Regions from separate parts of the Homo sapiens genome. Here region 1 is linked to region 2. Evidence: fine-mapped expression QTL. A gene starts in region 2. The other region holds a variant in brackets. All regions are shown on one strand. Distances are between the middles of the regions.

The links. PIP is the estimated chance that this variant, and not a neighbour inherited with it, causes the effect.
Region 1: its variant is fine-mapped to the expression of ADAP1 in whole blood (INTERVAL, PIP 0.99).

What each region holds. Positions count from the first base shown.
Region 1 is chr7:909,710-912,600 of GRCh38, reverse strand. All of the region lies in intron 4 of ADAP1 (ArfGAP with dual PH domains 1), which reads left to right. Among named protein-coding and RNA genes, the nearest start is that of GET4, 35 kb to the right of the region's middle. The variant A/G (reference allele first, on the strand shown) is at 1,586.
Region 2 is chr7:953,340-956,230 of GRCh38, reverse strand. It overlaps ADAP1 (ArfGAP with dual PH domains 1), which reads left to right and starts at 1,551. Exons shown (of 11, transcript NM_006869.4): 1 at 1,551-1,835. The coding sequence starts at 1,754. It overlaps LOC124901569 (a long non-coding RNA gene), which reads right to left and starts at 1,377. Exons shown (of 2, transcript XR_007060178.1): 1 at 967-1,377; 2 at 741-863. RefSeq lists enhancers at 658-1,267, 2,490-2,891 and silencers at 1,245-1,344, 1,200-1,355, 1,375-1,864, 2,155-2,364.

The sequences.
Region 1 (2,891 bases), 44 kb after region 2:
ACGACAAAGGACCGGGGGAGAAGCCCTTGGTGTCGGTGCGTAGCGGAAGGTGCGTCGCTGTGGCCCCAGGTGAACCTCAGCCCGCTGAGCCAGCAGGGCTCCCCCACCCTCTGCGCCGCCTCCCTGGGCCAAGGTCACTGCGTGGGGACGCGCCGCACCCCTCCCCCAGATGTGGGGGTTTATCCTTGTGTCTGAGCCAGACTTGCCCCCCGCCTGCCCCTGGGGGTGACCCTGGTGACAGCTGCTCCCACCGCGGGCTGGCCCCGCCTCGGGCCGCAGCCTCAATGGCGGCTTTCACAGGGGCCTGGACAATGCCTCATGTTGTCCTGAGGGCCAGGCCCTGGTCTCGCTGAGACGCGGGGCTTCCTGCTCTAGGCTCCGGACCCCGTGCTCCTGTCGGAGCTTCTGTGGTTCCCCTGTGGTTCAGGACGGCCCCTCCTGGTGGTACCAGGCAGGGATGGGCCGACCGTTGCCGTAAATGTCACAGGGCAGACGGAGCCCAGGAGGGGGCTGGGGCTGTGCACGAGGTCTGGGGCCTCGGTTTCCCCGTCCATATAGTGGGGACGATGGTGTGCGGCACGAGGGCGCTACTGGGAACATCACCAGCCGTTCCTCGCAGGCAGCGCGAGGCTTTACGTGGCCCATGAGGGGACGGGTGTTTGGGGCCAGGCCAGAGCTGTGGGGCTGCCCCTCGGGGGGACGGGTGTTTGGGGCCTGGCCAGAGGTGGTAGGGCTGCCCCATTGCCCCTCTCTGGGTGGGTGTCGGCTCCTGGCCCTCCGTGGGTCCCCCGCCCCCTTCCTGGCCCTCCGTGGGACCCCCGCCCCCTTCCTGGCCCTCCGTGGGACCCCCGCCCCCTTCCTGGCCCTCCGTGGGACCCCCGCCCCCTTCCTGGCCCTCCGTGGGACCCCCGCCCCCTTCCTGGCCCTCCGTGGGACCCCCGCCCCCTTCCTGGCCCTCCGTGGGACCCCCGCCCCCTTCCTGGCCCTCCGTGGGACCCCCGCCCCCTTCCTGGCCCTCCGTGGGACCCCCGCCCCCTTCCTGGCCCTCCGTGTGATCCCCGCCCCTTTCCTGGCATGTTTGTCTTACAGGAGTCAGGGTTCGCTGTTCTTGGGCGCTGGGGCCCCTGTGTGGGGGCCTCAGGGTTTGGGGCTTGGGGAGGGGGGTACCCTGGGGCTGACTTGGCCCTGAGGGTGGCCCCTCCTGCAGCCTGGGCAGCCTGGCGGGGATGGGGGCATCCACACGTCACTCTGGGCAGGAAGGCGCTGTGGAAACTGTGAACCCGTGTGTGAGTGGGGGGGTCTCTCCAGGCCTGTCGGGGGCCGGGCCCCATGCTGGGGGCTATATGAGAATAGGAACAGGGTGAGAGCTGACCCCAGGAGCCCTCGTCCACCCTCTGGCCTCACCCCTGGGAACAGGGAAGCCTCCCTGTCCTGGCTGTTTGGAGAGAGAGCTCCACGCAGGGCGAAGCTGGGACCTGGAGCCCTCCGCAGGATACGGCCCGCTGGTTCTCAGCCTCTGCCGGCCCCAGACGCACCAACCTGGAGAAGGTGCATTAATGGGTCGGAGAGCGTGGGTGGACGGGCC[A/G]GGCAGGGAGAGACGGAGCCCTGTGCGGGCTCACAGAGGAGGCCTTCAACTCTAAGGCCTTACCCAGCAAGGAGACACTGCTCTGCCGTGGGCTCCGGTGTTTGCCTCCTGAGGGAGGGCAGGAGCCACTAGGACCCAAAGGCCGGAAGCCAGGTCCAGGCCCTTCACAGGGACGGCCGGGGTGCAGTGATCAGGGCCTCGGCCCCGTTCTCAGAGGCCACCCATCCATGGTGCACCCCTCCCTGTGGAAGGCCAGAGGCCCCATGAGATATGGGGATGCAGTTCCCACCCCAGAGGGTCCACCACCCTGTGAGCTGTCACTCAGAGCAGGGCCACGTGCTTCCCTGCCCCAGTTTACAAGACAATTAGCATATAAATCACATACGTGAGGTGTGATTTACATCTACTTTGCATATCCTATTTAGAGTGCAGTCCCAGCTCTGACAAATCCAAGACCCAGCAGTCTCGGGCCAGGCGTGGGGCTCACGCTGCAACCCCAGTATGGTGGGAGGAGAGGCAGGAGGGTCACCTGAGCTCAGAAGTTCGAGACCAGCCTGGGCAACGCAGTGAGCTCCCATCTCTACAAAAAAATACAGAACTTAGCCGGGTGTGGTGGCGTGCATCTGTGGTCCCAGCTACTCGGGAGGCCAAGGCTGGAGGATCACTTGAGCCCGGAAGGTCAAGGCTGCAGTGAGCTGTGATAGTGCCCCTGCACTCCAGCCTGGGTGGGGAAAAAAAAAAAAAAGCCTCGTAAACGGGTGTGGGCTTTATGTGAAGGCTGTTCCTGTTTCCTCGGATTTCACTTCTCTCTGAGGCACGTGATGTGCGCGCTTCACTGTGGTGGAAGAAACGGCCTGGCTGCTTTCCAGGGACTGGGGCACCTTACATCCCCACGGGCAGCGTGGAAGGGCCGGCGTCCCCGCCCACAGTCGGGCGCCTGTGTGTGCACACTGGTTTGGTTTTGCCGTTCTCGTGGGTCATGGCGATGCTGAACGTCTTTCCTGCTCTTAGCCGTGCGGTGGGCAGAAGGGCTCCTCAGAGGCGTCTGAGCAGGGCATGGGGTGTGGACTGGACCCAGCTCCCCACAGGTGGGACAAGACCTGGCACACAGTGGGACCGGCACACAGTAGGGCCTGGTGTGCAGTAGAACCCCCCCCACCCCACACCATAGGACCCGACACACAGCGGGACCAGCTCACAGCAGGGCGCGGCACGCGGTAGCTGTTTGATAAATACTGGTCGAGTCCTGCCCCAGGACTCACGAGTCCTTTAAGAGAAAATGGCCATTTCTGGCCACAGCCCACCC
Region 2 (2,891 bases):
GGAGGAGAAAGACCCATGTGAACGGTTACAGGGAAAGAGCACGTGATGCCACAGGGCACAGATCCCAGAGACACAGACCAAAACGGGCTGCCGCGTTCTGCTTCAGGTAGACAGAGCTTAAGCAGCTCCATGATTCCACGTCAGCTGGAGCAGGGGGACAGGTGCCTTTGGTGGCACTCTGGTCAGTGCAGCCTCAGTGGAGGCCATTCCACATCCCATACCATTGCCCCAGCGATGCCACTTTGAGAGCAAATCCACACAAAACTCTTGCAAAGATGAGGTTGTGTAGACCATGATTCTGATGCATTCAAAACGCTCTAAATGCCCCTATGCCAGTGACTGGGTGAACAAGTCATGGTTCAGTTGAACTTTTTTTGAGTTTGTTTGTTTGGTTTTTTTTTTTTTTTTTTTTTTTTGAAACGGAGTTTCACTCTTGTTGCCCAGGCTGGAGTGCAATGGCGCAATCTCGGCTCGCTGCAACCTCTGCCTGCCAGGTTCATGCGATTCTCCTGCCTCAGCCTCCCAAGTAGCTGGGATTGCAGGCATGCGCCACCACGCCTGGCTAATTTCTTTGTATTTAGTAGAGACGGGGTTTCACCATGTTGCCCAGGCTGGTCTCAAACTCCTGAGCTCAAGTGATCCACCCGCCAGGGTCTCCCAAAGTGCTGGGATTACAGCCGTTAGCCAAAACCCTGTCTCGATAAATGAATAAATAAATGAAAGGCTACAGGCCTCAGACGTTCGTTCTGGAAGGTGCTGAGGAATTTGTTAACAGTGGTTGCCTGGAAGGCAGTGGGGAGAGGCTTTCCTTTTTCAGTCTGGTATGTTCCAGTTTGTTTTCAGCCGGGTGTACTGCATTAACCCTGCAAGAAGAAAATGGAAAGAATTTGAAAAGATGCTGGGGTGTGCAGAGGAAGGGCACGCGAGTCTGGGAAGAGGTGACATCAAAACCAGGTTTTTTGTTACCTGTCAGCCCCCATGTGAAGTCCCGGCGGGGCCCCTCAGCCTGCCTGAGTGGGAGGGGTGCCCAGAGGGTCCCATCTGTGGGTGGTGGGCGGCTGGGTGGGTCTCAGGGGGAGGCTCCGTCTGGGCCCTGTGTGGCCTCAGTGCCCTGGGACGCTGGCGTTTGTCACCTGCTGGCCGTCCCTCCCAGGCAGGGATGGTGTGAGCGCCCTGGTCCTGGTCCGTAGCACAGGACACGCACACCTGCCTTCCACGAGCACCCCCATGCCCATGGTCTTGGGGGGCTCGGCAGGTGCCCTCTGCGCCCCCCACAGTAGGTGTGCAGGCTCCGTCCCACCGCGCGCGGCGGCACGAGGGTCCCACCCAGGCCGGCCAGGTTTTGGGGCGGCCTCGCGCCCAGGCAGGTGGGACGCTGCGCGCGGATGGGGGGCGGGCGGCGGGCGATTTCCCAGCGGGTCCCCGGGGCGCGCGGGCTGGGGGCGCCGGAGCGGCCGAGGGAGGAGGCCACACGCTCGCCTGCACCGCTGGGGGCCGCCCGCGGGCCTTGCCGGCCAGAGCGCAGCGTGCGCCCCGGGCCCCGCGCCGGCACTCGCTCAGCGACCGCGGCGGAGACACGAGCGGCGGCGGCGGAGCCCAGAGGGCGGCGGGAATGCGGAACCGGCGCGCGGGCTGAGGCCGCCCGGGATGGCGCAGGGGCGGCGGCGGCGGGCGGCCTGCGCGGGGCCCTAGCGAGCCGGGCTGACGCTCCCGGCCCCGGCCCCGGCATCGGCATCGCGGGCGCATCGCGGCCATGGCCAAGGAGCGGCGCAGGGCGGTCCTGGAGCTGCTGCAGCGGCCGGGGAACGCGCGCTGCGCGGACTGCGGCGCCCCGGGTAGGTGTGGGCCGGGTGGGCGCGGGGCCGGGTGGGTCCGGGGTGGGCGCGGGGTGCCGGGCGGGTCCTGGGTGGGCCCCGGGGACCGGGCGGGGGAGCGCGGACGCCGCGGGGGTGGCGGCGCTGAACACCGGGCCGGATCGGCGCTCGGATGGGGCCCGGGCCCGGCTGCACCTGCGGGGACCCGGACGTCTTCCCGGGCCGGGCGCAGCGGGGGGGCCCCCCCCAGGACCCCCGGAAACCCCCCTGCCGCCGCCTCCCCTCCCCCGCCGGGCTGCGTGTCTGACGGTCACCGCGGACCGCCCGCCGCGTTGCGAAAGCTCGGGCTCCGCACAGAAAGAGGAAATCGGGGCTGGCTGCAGGGAGGGAACGGGCCGCCAGCCGGAGGTCTCTGCTGGGCTGTGGGGTCCGCCGGCTCCGGGGCCACCTCGCGGTGACGTCATGCCTCACGCCCTTCCCGCACCGGGGGTCCCTGGGTGTGAGCGGCGCCCCTGCCCCCGGCTCCCTGCACCTGGCTGCTCCGGGGCGGGCGCCAGGACAGGTGAGGCCTGGGAGAGGTGGGGCCGGACGCAGGTCCTGGTCCACCCGCCGCCCGCCCGTTCGTTCTCCCGGCCGGGCATCCCTGACTCGGTTCCCAGGTCTGTGGGATTTCAAGGCACTGGAGTCCAAAGGCGCGGAGTCCCTCCCTTCCAGGCCACTGGTCCTGTCATTGGCTGTGAACGGGGCCCAGTGCCCAGACCAGCCCTGCCCTGCTCGGGAGCTGTCAGCCCCAGGCCGGCTGCGCTGTGGAGAGAGGGCCCCGCCGGAGCAGTCCCGCCACCCCAGGCACACCAGGAATCTGGGGGCCAATAGTCTAAGCCCCTCGGAACAAACCTAAACTCACCGGCGGTGACTGAGGCCCCCAGGGAGGGAGCGGGGGAAGACCTTGCATTTGCCTCCAAGGCCCTGGTTCAATATGCAGCCTCTGGACACCCCGGAAAAAGGGGTGTCCCTGATTCCCTCTGGGATGGAGGGGTCTCTGCCAGCCCCAGGTCGTGGTGGCTGCTGTCCAGCTGC